Linked DNA regions of Homo sapiens: region 1 is linked to region 2. A link means that fine-mapping ties the variant in region 2 to the expression of a gene that starts in the linked region. Tissue or cell type: tibial nerve. Region 2 holds a variant in brackets; the other region holds the start of a gene. All regions are shown on one strand. Distances are from middle to middle.

What was found. PIP is the estimated chance that this variant, and not a neighbour inherited with it, causes the effect.
Region 1: OR52N2 starts here. The variant in region 2 is fine-mapped to the expression of OR52N2 in tibial nerve (GTEx, PIP 0.94).

The regions. Positions count from the first base shown.
Region 1 is chr11:5,803,913-5,812,183 of GRCh38, forward strand. It overlaps OR52N2 (olfactory receptor family 52 subfamily N member 2), which reads left to right and starts at 5,012. Exons shown (of 2, transcript NM_001005174.3): 1 at 5,012-5,142.
Region 2 is chr11:5,751,747-5,760,017 of GRCh38, forward strand. OR52N4 (olfactory receptor family 52 subfamily N member 4) reads left to right here and starts at 2,497. Exons shown (of 2, transcript NM_001005175.5): 1 at 2,497-2,559; 2 at 2,947-4,212. The coding sequence starts at 2,995. The coding sequence ends at 3,960. The variant G/A (reference allele first, on the strand shown) is at 4,234.

The sequences.
Region 1 (8,271 bases), 52 kb after region 2:
TCTGCTCACAAATCTCTACTAACAGTTATGTTTCGTGTTTTACTAAACTGGCAAAATTAAGCCAAAAATATAACTAATATCTTATCTCACTCTTTCCCTGAGTTCTGTCTCTTTCAAATTAATGACAAATGTGCTTTCCCTTAAATTAAAAAAAACTATAGATATAGCTTGTTGTTGGGTATAAAAATATTCTGGGAATAAATGCTCGGTGCCACAAAGTGAAACCCGCACTCAGGCAAAAGTTATCTTAGCAAGGCAATTTACTTCTGCAGAAGGGTGCCACTCACATCAATCAAGATCACAAGAGCACAGGGAACAAAGGAGAGCAGCGAAGTTCTCTCTCTAATGGTAGTTTCTACTTCTGTGTCACTCCCCCATGGGCCGGGGTCAGACCGCACAGTCTGAGCTAACCTGATTTGTTACTTGCAGATATCTTTCTAAATATGGAAGGGAAGGGGGACTTGAGGTACAGTGGTGAGGCCTGTGAGATGTGCAGTTTCGGGGGAACAGTGGGTGCAGATAACTAAGGGAACAGACGTGAGTTATTGATTAGAGCTGATGGGAAGCAGGTAGGCTGTTTTACAGTAACTAGGGACAAGGGGGAACAGGAAAGTTGAGTTTGAGAACAAAAGACAAGGAAGTTAGCAGGCTAAATCTTTGAAGAGGAACTCAGAGAAATTCATTGTATCTTACAATTCCCCCCTTTTAATTTTCTTATGATTCTTTCTCTTCAAACGTTTTTAACATGTCTTGGCTTTGCCATTCGATTTGATCTTCTAAAAGGAAAAGCTTACTTGAATAAGGTGGAGGAGAACTAAGGGAGGCTTTAGTAAGTGCTGTTTGTACAGTCCTTTGTATTAGCCTATGGATGCGTGGTATGACATAACACCTAACAAGAAAGAGTACACTTATTACAATTGCAAGAGAAATAAGAATTAAGGCTATGATTCTTTTCCGTTTACTGAACTACTTTCTTAGCCATCCTGAAATAGGGTCAGTGACTAGAATTTTTAGCTAGTTTATTGGATAAAGTGGTAAGTCTTTGTAAGGCCTTTTTTATGCTCCTATCGGGGGCAGTGTTGTTTGGGATTAAGGTAAAACATTGGGTTTTAATCATAACACAAACCTCACCTTTTTGGCTAATAACATGTCTAGTGCTATTCTGTTTTCTTAAGCTCTTTGGTTAGTAGGCTTTAATTGGTCAGCTATTCCTTTGATGGCATCCCTGGTGTAATTAATAAACTGCTGCTGATTATAATGGATGTAATTTATCTAAGCTACATTTTTATTAATAGTTACTTGTGGAAATATGGATTCAAATTCTGCAGCTATTTGGTCTCGGGCTTTGAACCTGTCAGGCACTCCTCGTGGGACACTAATGGCATCTATGTAAACTTGAGAGTTAAAAGACTTATAAGGGGCTTCTCTTATTTTTCAGTGTTGTGGTTTTTCTTTTTCTGGTTGATGAAATTCTACAGTGAAAGGGATAGCCAACTGGACAAAAGCACAAGTGCCGCTCCCATTACTTGGCAGAGTGTCCGTTAAGGGTGTACTGCAACACCACCATCTATCCTCTGAAGGATGACTAAGGGCAGACTGATGGGTAAGCTCTTGGAAGGGCCTAAGCTTGCTGCAACGTGTTAAGCTTCCAAGGAATGCCAAGTTCTCCCCATGTTGTGAGAGACATGAGGTGAAATTGACGTCAGGAGGTGGAAGCTGAATGGCCCTCGGGGGCTGACCTCCAGGGTGTTGGACTTCAGGATATAGCAGAGAGAGAGCTTGGCATGATTTGTTGCCTTAGGCTGTGGAATCTTGGAAAACAGCTACTATACAGCCCATGTCTGGTCGACTGAGGGACTATCCTAGCGGAAAGGAGACAATCTGGGCCTCTGGTCTGCTGTGCACACAAGAATAACAATTGCTTTTATTCAAAGTGCGGACAGAATATTGAATCCATCCCAACTAAGCATTTATATCTTGATACCTTGTTTCAATTGCTAGAGTTTGTCTTAGATCCTTCACTTCTACAATATTTACTTTGGCATTGTTGTTGGGCAGGGTAGAAAGTTTAGAAGGTGAAGGAGGGTCAATAAAGCGTATTTTAAAGAGGCCTACAGGGTCGTATCCATTGGCCTCTGCCCCTAAGCCGTAAAAGCCTTCTAAAGGAAGCGTATGGTTGGTAGAGGTAGCAGCATTAATAGAGATAGTTACTGGGTTACAATGGTAAAGTTGGCAATTAGAGGGGGTGGTTCATTTGGTAAGGAGGAGGTAAGATTTTAGGTTGGTACAGCCTTCTGGGGAGGTCTCGCCGTGTTCATTGGCAGTCAGGATGACATCTGCTCATTGAGAACGTATCTCCTAACTTAAGGTGCCTTGGTACCCCCACCATGAGCAAGGTGTGAGGTCAGTGGTTTCTCTGAAGGGGCAGAGGTGTTTTTCTAAAGGAGAGACATACCTTTGCCATTGTTCGTCCTCTTCACAAGGCATAACAAGGCAAGCCTCAAAGGTAATGATTTGGGATGAGTCTGACTTAGTTACATTGATAATAAGGTCAGCAATAGAATGAGGAAAGAAGAAAGGGTAATAGAATAGATAAAAGAGAGTTAAACTTTCCTTAACTTTAGTTTGAGGGGTTTTTTCCCTTGAATAATGGTCCATGACTTTGGGGATGGTGGTGCTTTCTTGACTCGGGTATGATGGGTCCATCTTTTCTTGCTGTTTGGACTGCAGTTTCAGTGGTTTGAAGCACTAGGCCAGCTCCTCAGGCTGGTGTCAATATACTGGGAACTTTAGGGGTGGCACCTGTACCGGAAAATTTTGAGTTCTGAGGGAAGAGAAAGTGGAAGATAAACCAAGTATGTAGGAATGTTGGCAGTAGATTGTTTTGGGAGGTAGTTTGGACTTACTAGGGTAATAGGAAGATAGAAGACATTTCATCTATGGCAACCAAGTCTCTAGACTTGTTTGGCTAAGGGTATAAATTCCTAAACACATATAAACTTTGACTGTGTTATACATCGCTTGGGGTCTTTAATGGGTAATGTTTTTCTGAGTTCCCTTTAGTGCCTACAGGAGAAACAGCAGCCTGTTCGGCTTATCTGATTTGCTAGGTTATTTTAAAAGACAGGCTTTTCTGGTGCTTGGGGACATGGACAATAGATACTTGGGTGATTAACTCCTCATGAACAAGGCTTTGACTTTTACTATTAATCCAGTCTGAAATTTGCTAAATGTATTAGCCACTGTAAAGGCATATTTAGAATTAGTACAGATGGTTCTTTCCTGGTCCTGCAGGTAATTTAAAGCTTGACTAAGTGCAGACAGCTTATAAATTTCTCTAGGAACTTCTTTATTAATTACTGAACACCTGTTGCGTTCTTTTTCCCTTAATCATTCCTGAAGAGGGTTTCTTCTAAGTTTGGCCGAACGTTTGTAATCAGTTAAATCTAAACACGTGTGCTTTCTTTTTAGCTTTGGATATCTCATTAAGAAACTTGCTAGATTAAGCGAATTATCAGTCATTAATGTTAAACTATACTTTTAAACTCGTACTTATACACATGTAATACTTTTCTGGTGGTACATTTTAATATAAGTGACTTTAAATAATCAAAGTCTTTTCTGGTGGATATTTTCACTTTTAATACTGGCCTGACCCATAATAAATGCTAGCGGATATATCAGCTGAAAGATTATCTACTACTTGTTCAGGAAACTTAGCCGCGGGGATGCCTAGCTGCTTGGAGCCGCATCTGAAGCCTGTATTACTTGACCCTGGCAAAAGTAAGGCATATGTCCCATAATGTAGTCTGCTTAGGCATAGGCTGCGGCAGAGCATGGGCTTTTTCTGCTGTGGGGGCGCACTAGAGGCTGCACGACAACGACAACATGTTGAGGCAGATCCTTGATGTCGCTAGCCTGTCAAAAGCCACCTGGCGAATGAGGAGCTTGGATTCCTTTCACAGAGGAGGACTTAGGCTGGGCCTGAGGGGAAGGGTTGGGGGTATTAGATGGGGGACTAGGGGCATTAGGTAAAGGATGGTCCAGGGAATCCTATGTGCTGTTTTCTTTGCTAGGATCCTCTGAGAACCCTCCTTCACTGTCTCCACAGTAGGGGCAGGTGCATAAGGGAAAGGGAGGACAGGTCTTTGCCTCCAAAAAAGAGCATAGTCCAGTTCTTCTTGAGAAACTGGGCTTTTATTATTTACATGTTAAACTGAAAGTTGACATAGTATATCCTCAGTTGACCCAAACTTTGGCCAGAAGATTGACGGATTGAGGTTAGGTCTTTGAGTCCAAATAGAAAAGCAATATTTTATCATTTGTTGCTTTTTCTTATGTTTAGTTCTTTCATTATCTTCCCAACATTTTAGCATGAGACTTAGGGGACTATCAGGTGGTATATCTTTGTTACTATTCATATCCTTTTTCATGAGACTTAGGGGACTATCAGGTGGTATATATCTTTGTTACTATTCTTACCATTTTTGCTTGTAATATTTCCCATATTGGGTCTTGGCTAGGCGCAATCTCTCATATTAGGAATTTCTTGCCTAACGGGGCATTGCTGTGGCTCAACCCCATCATATTAGGGATTTCTCGCCTATTTGGCGAGGGATTCCTTGTGGCTCAACCCCTTGTGTTAGGGGACCTCTTGCCTATCCTTCACTGGAATCGTAACTGAGGCTCAATTCGCCTATCCTTTAGCCCCACCTGCTGGAGGCTCTTTGCATCCTTTCGCTTTGTCCACTCTGGCCGCTTCCCTCGTGGGAATATTTCAGGTTCCTCTTAGCCTTGATGGCGGGTCAGCATAAACCCCTGATGGGACCCCCATATGAGGTGACCACAGAACCACAGATTGGACTCATTCATTCTGCGCAGCAGGAGCGCTTGCTACCATTCACGCACTTTCAACCTCCAGAATGCCCCGACCCACGGCCCCCAACCACCAAGGAAGTACTTTGTCGCCCCTGTGACGTTTCCTACCTTGATCTGTGCACAGAGTTTACCTGGTCACCGCGGTATTGCAAGCCTCTCCTCCTCGCGTTGCTGAGAGTCCGAGTTTATTCATCACAATGGGTGGGTCCCGATCTCCCCTCCCTGAGACTACCGCAACGGGGCATTGGAATGCGTCTCCCCTGGGTAGGATGACTGAAGATCCCTTTCTGAAGGAGAGTGGGGATCCCAGATGAGCCCCCAGAGTTGTTGGGTGTAAAAATGCTCTAGGAATAAATGCTCAGTGCCGCAAAGTGAAACCAACACTTAGGCAAAAGTTCTCTTAGCAAGGCAATTTACTTCTGTAGAAGGGTGCCACTCGCATCAATCAAGATCACAAGAGCACAGGGAAGGAAGGAGAGCAGGGAGCTTTTATCTCTGACAGTTTCTACTTCTGTGTCACTCCCCCATGGGCTGGGGTCCCCCATGGGCTGTGTCACTCCCCCATGGGCTGAGCTGACCAGATTGGCTACTTGCAAATATCTTTCTAAATATGGAAGGGAAGGGGAACACGGGGTACAGTGGTGAGGCATGTGAGATGTGCAGTTTCCGGGGAACAATGAGTCCAGGTAACTACGGGAACAGATGTGAGTTATTGATTAGAGCTGATGGGAAGCGGTAGGCTGTTTTACAGTAACTAAGGAAAAGGAAAGTTGAGTTTGAGAACAAAAGACCAGGAAGTTAGCGGCTAAATCTTTGAAGAGGAACTCAGAGAAAATTATTGTATCTTACATTGTCTTTCAAAAAAAAAAAAAAAGTAAAGCTATTTTCAAAGCAGTTCTATAAAAAAGCTGAAAAATGATTACCATTGCCCAAGGATAGTTTCACTATTCTGTGGGCTAATTAAAGACAAGAAATTTAAATGTGTCCCAGAGATTCTGGCACATTGTGTCTTTGTTCTCATTGATTTCAAAGAACATCTTTATTTCTGCCTTCCTTTTGTTATTTACCCAGTAGTCATGCAGGAGAGGCTATCACAATCTGAATTTAGTACAAGAAGATACTGTATTATGAGAAAGAACAAATAGCAGTAAGTTTAAGGAAAGGAAGAGAGATTTGGGAAAACGGTATAATTAATTATTCTACACTTATTACTTCAAGTATAAGGACTTCATTTAGAACAACATTCTTCTTGTCATAACTCATTCCTCTGAGTGGGAGAAGCATCAGATATCAGTGAGCTATGGGTGAGCTATATGCTGAGCCTTGACGCTTCACAGAAGTCAATCTCCCTGCCTGAATAGGCCACGCATTCTGGTCTGTCCACATTAGCAAAGTCAGTGGCCAAGCTTTCCGAAAGAGACTTGTATGTGTCTATGCTAGGGACTGGATGAGCAAGCTAGTCTAAATCAGAGGCAAGGCAGAACAAGGTATTTTGCCTGAAAAATCTAAAGCCTCATTTTCCCAGATGTATATCATAAAATTGTTGACATTCTCTGTCAACTCCTTGTCTCCTGTGTGTCTCAGCTCTGAACTGAGGAGGAAAGTACAAGGTTGTATTAAGAGGCCCTCAAAAATCCCAAAACATTTTAAAATGGAATTATGATGGAAAGATAAATAAATAAGGTAGGGGAAAAGTCAAATGAAGCAAAAACGCAAAGGAATGTGTTATAAGTATGAGATGTAATGTCACAAATTACAAATACCAGAAAAGACTTTCAGAAGGAACAAATGCTCAAGGTGGTACAGAAGATAAGCTGGTGTTAACATTGTGGAAGGGGGATGGGAGGTAAGAACTGTTTAAGGAAGAGGAAATGGCCGGCATGGAGGTTTTGAGGAATGAATGTGCCACACATGAAGGGACTGAAAACAAGATTAAGTGGGCTCAAATCAGGGGCCAGTTCTATCTGAGTTTATAGTACACAATCTTTTTTTTTAACCTAATATGTTACCTTTTTGTTGTTTTGTTATTGTTGTTTTGCTTCATACTAAACCTAGAGCCCTATGCCTATGATGTCAGGTAATTTCATAGAGTCATTTTTGGGTTTATGGTAAGAACAAGAGAGACAATGAAAAGGTTTAAGAAGATGAATGATAAAAGCTTTCTACTTGGAGATAAAAATTTTTTTATTGTAATACAGAAAGTTGAGAAAATAATTTTTGAAAAAACTATTGGCAAAAGTGGCTAAACACAAAATATATTAAAATATTTATAAAATATGATATATAAATATAATTTAAACTTTGGCCACCTGTTTTATTCTTGATATGTAAGATTTAATATAAAAATGAAATTCAAAAGCTAAGAGAGTGTATTACTACCAGACCTGCCTTACAAGAAATGCTAAAGCTGAAAAAACAGGATGCTGATTAGTGACATGAAAACGTATGAAAGAATAAAAGTCACTGGCAAAAGTAAGTACATAGTGAAACTCTGAATAATACTGTTATGGTGGTATATAAATCACCTATATCATTAATATGAATGTTAAAAGACAAAATTAATTTAAAAAATAGACAGCTACAATAGTTTGTTAAGGGATATACAATATAAAAAGAAGTAAATGTGACATCAGAAACATAAAATATCAGGGAGAGTTGAGTAGAAGTATGGAACTTCTTTATGCAATTGAAGTTGTTATCAGCCTAAAATAGCCTTTTATAAATATAGAATGTTTTATGTAAGACTTGAGGTAACCACAAAGCAAAAACCTATAGTAGATGCACAAAATATAGAAAGTAAAGAACGAAAGCACACTATTAGAGAAAATTATCTATCACAAAAGAAGACAACAAGAGAAAAAGAAGGGAAGAAAGAATGTAAAAAACAACAAGAAAACAACAAAATGGCTGTAGTAAGTCCTTACTTATCAATAATTACCTTGAAAGCAAAATGATTAAATTCTTCAATCAGAAGACATAGATTTGCTGAATGAATTAAAAATAGAAGACCCAACTATTTGCTGCCTGTGAGGGCATCACTTCACCTCTAAAGACACACACACAGGTTGAAAGCAAAGGAATGGAAAAAGATATTTTGGGCAAATATAAGGCAAAAGAGTTCAGAAGTAGCTATATGTATATTGGCTAAAATAGCATTTAAATCAAAAACTGTTAAGGCAGGAACAGAAAATCAAACACTGCATGTTCTCACTCATAAGTGGGAATTGAACAATGAGAACACATGGACATAGAGAGGGAAACAACACACACCAAGGCCTGTTGGGGGTTGGGGGTTGAGGGGAGGGAACTTAAAGGATGGGTCAATAGGTACAGCAAACCACCATGGCACACGTATACCTATGTGACAAACCTGCACATTCTGCACACGTATCC
Region 2 (8,271 bases):
ACATCGGTGATTTCACTGAATTTTGGAGAATTCCTAAATATAAGTTGATTTTCATAATATCATGAGGGAAATATTATTAAAGAGAATAATTGTTTGAACAAATCAATTTCTTACCCCTAGTCAAGGCTATTGGTAGCTACATTATCTTAAAATAATTTAAAGGATGGGTCGCTATCATGTCCAAAGGACATTTGAGACCTCCTGATGATGGTTCTGCTTGAAGAATGTATAGGGATTAGCTACATTTGAGGGGAGTGGGCAAAGGGAGCACCAAGGAGATAGAGGTTTGCCTATCACAAAGCTGAGAATGTCAGTGCGATATGAGTAGGAAACAGCAAACAGCAACAGAAGAAAATGCTGTTCCTACCACTTTGACCTGTCAGAATTCTAATCATGCTCCAGGTCTGGAAGCATCTGTCCTCTTCTCTAGGAGCATCTCCTGAGGCTAGGTTAGACACACAGGTGCTCCTATGACACCCAGTATAACTCTGACATTTTGTAATGACTTGAGTACATATCTTTGAGGAGCATGCCTATTAACAAGTTTAACCTGTGTTTTTCTACTATTTTCAAAACAAGTTGCCTTTTGATAAATCTGATCTGTCCTCTTCATCTTACCCAATAAGGCAGAACATGTGACTGTACTTCCTATCAGATGCTAATCTTAAAACAGTGTATTTTATTAATGGAGGTTAGGATGAATACCTCCTCTGATGGGGCACAAAAGAGAGTTCATTTGGTGGCACTCATGATTCCTATGGTGTTAATTTTTGTAAGCATTGCCAAAATGGCTGCCAGCCTGAGTAGAAAATACAAATATGGGTATTGAGCACTTAAAATGTGGTAGCATGTTTTAACATATTACGTCCTTTAATCCTCTTGGCAATTTAATTTTTGTTATTATAAATTCTAACATACATATGCAATTTTACAATTAATCCAATTACATGTTGATTGATTTTTACAACCTGAATCTTGTATATCTCACAACCAAATCAAGTAAGGGAATATGACCAGCAACTAACAGGACCCTTCTACCACATACTGCCTTTCAGTTATCACTCTCTCTCACTTTTTAAAAAGATTTTTCTATTTCTAATAGCACAGAATAATTTGATCCGTTTTTGTATTTCATTTAAAGATCACAAGATGTTACATCTATTTTAAGTCTTTCTAAAAAAAATTAACACATATTGTGAGATTCGTCTATATTATGCATATAGTCATAGATTGTTTATTCTTATTGTTACGTGGTATTTCATTGTGGGAATGTACCAAAATTTATTTACCCATTTGATGTTGATGAACATTTAGGTTTTTTCCAGTTTTAGGCTATACTACAAATCATGTTTCAATAAGCATTCTAATTGATGTATTCTAGTAAATATATATACATAGTTTTGTTGGAAATGGCAATGGTGGTCATGTGTATGTTTATCATTATGAGATATCTAATAAAGAGTTGTTCTAATTTACATGTCTACCAGCAGTAAATGAGAGTTCCAGTTGTTCTACATCTTTGCCAATGCTTGGTATTTTTAGTTCTTTTCATTTTAGCTGTCCTGTTTGGTATGTCACTACATACCAAAAAAAGGTGCTTTGTCATGAGAGATACAATTTTTACTTATTTTTCTGATTAATATAAAAGTTTGTGCCTATTTACCTGTTCATTGGCAATTTTATTTCTCTTTTGAAGTGTATGTTTCTTCCTGCAACTTTTTCTTACTGATGTTGTTGAAGTACTTTATATATTTTCTGTATGTATGCATTTGGATATCTTCTAGTTTGCGTTGACTAGATACATAAAGAACAAGAAAGATATCTTGAAAAGTGAAAAAATTGAATCAAAACTTCATTGACTTTTTTAATTTTAAATTTTTGTGGGCACATAGTAGGTGTATATATTTATGGGTGTATGAGATATTTTGATAGAAGCATACAATGTGTAATAATCCCTTTTAAAGGGCCGGGCACAGTGGCTCATGCCTGTAATCCCAGCACTTTGGGAGCCTGATGTGGGTGGATTACCTGAGGTCAGGAGTTGGAGACCAACCTGACCAATATAGTGAAACCCCATCTCTGCTAAAAATACAAAAATTAGCTGGGCGTGGTGGCATGTGCCTGTAGTCGCAGCTACTCGGGAGGCTAAGACAGGAGAATTGCTTGAATCCGGGAGGTGGAGGTTGCAGCCAAGATTGCGCCACTGCACTCCAGCCTGGGCAACAAAGCAAGACTCTGCCTCAAAAAAAAAAAAAAAAAAAAAAAAAAATCCCAGTAAAGTAAATAGGGGTATCCATCATCTCAAACATTTATCCTTTGTGTTACAGACAACCCAATTATATTATTTTAGTTATTTTAAAATATACAATTAAATTATTATTGAGTATAGACACCCAATAAATTTACTAATTTTTGAGACCCCAAGCTTCATTGAGTAATAATTTAATTAAAATTTCAAAATTCTTTGAACAGTGCCTGAGTACCCAAGAATAAATATCAGTCAGTCATTAAGAATAAAAATTAAAAAGTCAACATCTCATCTCTCAGATCATCAGTGAGGTAATCAAATGACTCTTCTTTAAAATTATATCTATATTGAGATGAGTATAGTTATAGTTAAGTAAGATATTCTAATAAAAATACCATTTGAAAAGTCAGAATTATACTTGATTATAAATCTATGAGATTGGGAATATGTCTTTTTATAAAATAATTGATGTTTGATTGGCATCTGTGTTGAAAACTTAGACTGCTCAATAAGAATTTTTTACTGAATCAATTAATTAATCAATCAATAAAACTAAACAGACAAACAAAATTATTTCTTGGCACTCAGAAATTTGGTTGTTGGACCATTAAAATGCATTATGGAATTTTTAAAAGTTGGGGGAGAGGGAGACAGTAAAAATAACCTATATTTTCTCTTGTTTTTTTTTTTAACTCTAGGAAAGCCCAGACAAATTTTGAGCTATTTCATAACCTACCAGACTTATCATGCTAACACTGAATAAAACAGACCTAATACCAGCTTCATTTATTCTGAATGGAGTCCCAGGACTGGAAGACACACAACTCTGGATTTCCTTCCCATTCTGCTCTATGTATGTTGTGGCTATGGTAGGGAATTGTGGACTCCTCTACCTCATTCACTATGAGGATGCCCTGCACAAACCCATGTACTACTTCTTGGCCATGCTTTCCTTTACTGACCTTGTTATGTGCTCTAGTACAATCCCTAAAGCCCTCTGCATCTTCTGGTTTCATCTCAAGGACATTGGATTTGATGAATGCCTTGTCCAGATGTTCTTCACCCACACCTTCACAGGGATGGAGTCTGGGGTGCTTATGCTTATGGCCCTGGATCGCTATGTGGCCATCTGCTACCCCTTACGCTATTCAACTATCCTCACCAATCCTGTAATTGCAAAGGTTGGGACTGCCACCTTCCTGAGAGGGGTATTACTCATTATTCCCTTTACTTTCCTCACCAAGCTCCTGCCCTACTGCAGAGGCAATATACTTCCCCATACCTACTGTGACCACATGTCTGTAGCCAAATTGTCCTGTGGTAATGTCAAGGTCAATGCCATCTATGGTCTGATGGTTGCCCTCCTGATTTGGGGCTTTGACATACTGTGTATCACCAACTCCTATACCATGATTCTCCGGGCAGTGGTCAGCCTCTCCTCAGCAGATGCTCGGCAGAAGGCCTTTAATACCTGCACTGCCCACATTTGTGCCATTGTTTTCTCCTATACTCCAGCTTTCTTCTCCTTCTTTTCCCACCGCTTTGGGGAACACATAATCCCCCCTTCTTGCCACATCATTGTAGCCAATATTTATCTGCTCCTACCACCCACTATGAACCCTATTGTCTATGGGGTGAAAACCAAACAGATACGAGACTGTGTCATAAGGATCCTTTCAGGTTCTAAGGATACCAAATCCTACAGCATGTGAATGAACACTTGCCAGGAGTGAGAAGAGAAGGAAAGAATTACTTCTATTTGCCTCTTATGCAGGAGTTCATAAAATCTTTCTGGAAGCACTGTATTGATCACAAAATGGAGTTTGTTAACTGGTGCATTCTCAATAAGTACCTTGGGAATCTCAACATCATTGGAAGGCCCACCAACATTTCTATAAATTTTTTACCTTCTCACTCATGTGAAGGACCAGTCTAATAATTAAACCATATTTTATTCGACAAAACCTAATGAGTCCATTTTTTAT[G/A]AAAAGACAAATCTAAGTAGAAGGAGATGATGTGAGTCTTCTTTTCAATGATCACAATTTTCAGATTAATATTTCAGATTAATAGCCAGTTATTACTTTTGTCTAGAAAACATGTGCTATATATTTCTCATAACTACCAAAAACCTGTTTCTTCAATGACATTTTCCTGAAGGAGAATCTAGAGTGCATGCCATAAAGTCTAAAATGAGTTTTAAGTCTCTAAGCATCTAGCTAAAATATTATTAGGCTGAATAGGTCACATAATTATTTCACAACAGAATAATTGGATATTTCGTTTTCTTTAAAGGGGCTTTTTAAAAAGCACAGAGCCTGGAAAGAGAGGTAGAGATCTTAACCAAAAATAAAAAACAGTATAATTTTTTTCTAAGACCTGTATGAAAGGGGATCAAAATCTACTTGTTTCATTTTATCTCTAATTGTGAATCTAATAAGGAAAATTAGGTATATATTTCTAATATTTAAGATTTATCTAAATTAAAAAACAAGTGAGAAACTATAGAACATAGTATTTTCATATTAATGTCTCATAAACTAAGCCAATTATATAAGGAATATAAACTCAACTTTTACTGTTATTTTTCTGTGTCCAACTGACAAGAAAACATGTACTTCCCTGAAATTTAGTTAACTATAGTCGTCAAATTGCATTTATTCACTTAGTGAATCCTTCTTGACTATGTTGCATTTTACAAGCTGGCCAAACAGCAGTACCCACTAAAATATTATTATCCTCCATGTATCGCCCTATTTCAATATTTGCTACCCTAAAGCTAAAAGTCATCAGTATTCTCTTTACTTCCTCAACCTGACATCACTCTTCTCCTAGTTTGTCTTTCTCTTATCCCAGTTGTTATCTGAAATTGCTATTGTCAACTTCACCAATGCTTTTCCATGTTAACAAACTAAATAGTCCTCCTTCTTTGCTCATCTCACACTCTCTCAGGAATATTGATTTCAACTCAGTATTTCCAATATCTTGAAACACTATATCATTTTTATTTACTTCAGAGACACTACATATTTCATTTATGTAATACACTTTGTTTAACTTTGATTTGTTTTCTACATTCTCTTCCTAGGTGTTCTCCTTTAGTGTCATGGTCTTAAGTATTGGCTATAAAACTAATGATTCCCCAAAGGAAGCTAAGGTTCAGAGAACTGTTTTCCACGTACTTATTCTTCATGGCATACTATCTTTCTTAGACAGGTCAATATCTCCTTTTTCCCCCTGCATTCTCCATGTCTACTCCAATTTTCCATGTCCTGCTCCTCCAGTTTATCTCCCAGTGATTTTGGCATAACGTTTGTTATATTTTAGTTTCCTTAAAAATAGATGTTATTATTCAGTGATTTTATGTGTTTTAATTTAAATACATTTTATTGTGCTAAACAACTTAATCTGCTAATTTCTCACTCAATACTTTAAGATGTATTTATCTTAAATATCTTGGAACATGTATTTATATTTTATACTTGTCAATGTAATGTATATTACTTATTTCAAAATTGTTAAGTTGGCTAGATACAGTTTTGATAAAAAATTTGCATCTACTAACTTCACAACACACAAAAATCACCTGTGCTTCCATACACTATCTTGAACAATGTGAAATGGAAATTAAGAAAACAATCTTTTTTACAGTAATAATATTAAAAAGAATATAACACTTTGGAATAAATTTAACCAAGAAGGCAAACACTTATAAACTGAAAACTACAAAACTTTTTTTTAAAGAAGATGCAAATAAATGGAAAGATATTTTATGTTCACATTTTAGAAGACTTGCTAGTGTTAAAATTCTCGTACTGCATGAGGTAACTATGAACTTAGTGCAATCCTTATTTAATTCCCAATGAAAATTTTTATAGAAATAAAAAAGCAGTGCTAATATTCATGTGGAACCACAAAGGACTATAAATAACCAAAACAATCTTAAGAAAGAACAAAGTTGAAGGCCTCACACCTCATTATTTAAAAACATATTATAAAACGACAACAATTAAAACAGTATGTATAAATAAGTGTAATAAATTAAAACAGCACAGTATTAAGACACATAGACCAATGGAATAGAGAGCTCAGAAATAAACCCATGCACATACGGTTAATGGATGTTCAACAAGGGTGGCAAGAAAACACAATGGGGAAAGACATTCTTGTCAACAAATGAATTTGGGAAAACTGAATATCCATATGCAAAAGGATGAAATTGGACTCTTATCTTACACCACATACAAAAATAGATTCAAAGTGGATCAAAGACTTAAACCAAAGAACTAAAACCACAAAACTCCTAGAAGAAAACAAAATAGAAACATTTCATAACATTGGTCTTGGCTATGATTTCTTAGTTAGGACATTAAAAACACAAGGAAAAATAGCAAAAATAGGCAAATGGGACTATATCAAACTGAAAAGCTTTTGCACAGCAAAGAAAACAATCAACAGAGTAAAAGAGCAACTTACAGAATGGGAAATAATATTTGCAAACCATATATCTGATAAAAGATTAAAATCTAAAACATATAAAGAACTTCCAAAAATCAACAGCAAAAAATTGGTGAGACTATGAGTATTGGAAAGATTGTTTTCTCTTTTTTATTACTCTTTTAAAATTGTTCTACCTGCTCTGTAGTATATCTGTCATACTACTGGCAGGTATGTAAATTTAACTAATTATTTTTTGCATATCTTGTAATGATAAAGATACGCATAACCATCAGGTCCATTTCACACAAAACTGTAAATATATAATTACCAGAACCCATCAATTAGAATGCTTACTGCAACATGATTTGTAGAATAAAACTTAAAACTGGAAATATCTAAATGTCCATCACCATCAGATGGGTTAAATGAATTTTGGTACATTCCCACAGTACATTCCCACAGTACATTCTGTATGACAGTAAGAATATAAAATCTGCAACTTCAGGGACAGACTTTAACTCACTTCTCTTAACAATAAAAAAAAACAATTATACAGAAAGTTAGCAATGATATATAAGAACTTATAACACAATCAATCAACCTAATCTGAAAAACACTTCTAGAACATGCTACTCAACAAGAGGAGAATACATTTTTTTTTTCAAGTGCTCACAGAACATAGCCCTAAATTGTACTGAACAATGAAAGAAACCCAAACTTTTAAAAATAATTTCAAGCATACAGAGTGTATTTTCCACATAAAATGAAGTAAAACTGGAAATAAATAAATATATTATTCATTTTATATATATAATATGTATATATAATGGTAGTATATATATAATATATATATATAATGGTAGTATATATATAATATATATATATAATGGTAGCATATATATGTAATGAAAATCTCCAAACAGTAGAAAACTAAACAGCACATTTCTAAATAATCTTTGGGTCAAAAAGGAAGTGTCAGGGATATTTTAAAAAATATATTGCCGGTCACAGTGGCCCATGCCTATAATCCCAGCACTTTGGGAGGCCGAGGCAGGTGGATCACCTGAGGTCAGAAGTTTGAGACCAGCCTAACTGACATGGTGAAACCCGCTACTAAAAATTAAAAAAAAAAAAAAATTAGCCGGGCATAGTGGCCCATGCCTGTAATCCCAGCTACTTGTGAGGCTGAGGCAGGAGAATCCCTTGAACCCGGGAGGCAGAGTTTGCAGTGATCCGAGATCATGCCACTGCACGTCAGCCGGGGCATCAGAGTAAGACTGTGTCTCAAAAAAAAATTATATTGAAGAAAAATGACAATTCAACATATCAAAATGTGTGGGACACTGCGAAAGTATTACCAAGAGGGAAATTCATACAATTAAATAATTATATTAGGAGAATTAAAAGTCTCAGATCAATAAGCTCAGCTACCACTTCAAGAGTATAGAAAAAATCAGACTATAAATCCAAAGCAAGTAGAAAAAAGAAAACAACAAAAATAAGAGTGAAATCAATAAAACTGAAAACAGAAAAATAATAGAAAAAATCAATAAGGCATGGAGCTGCTTCCCTGAAAAAAATCAACA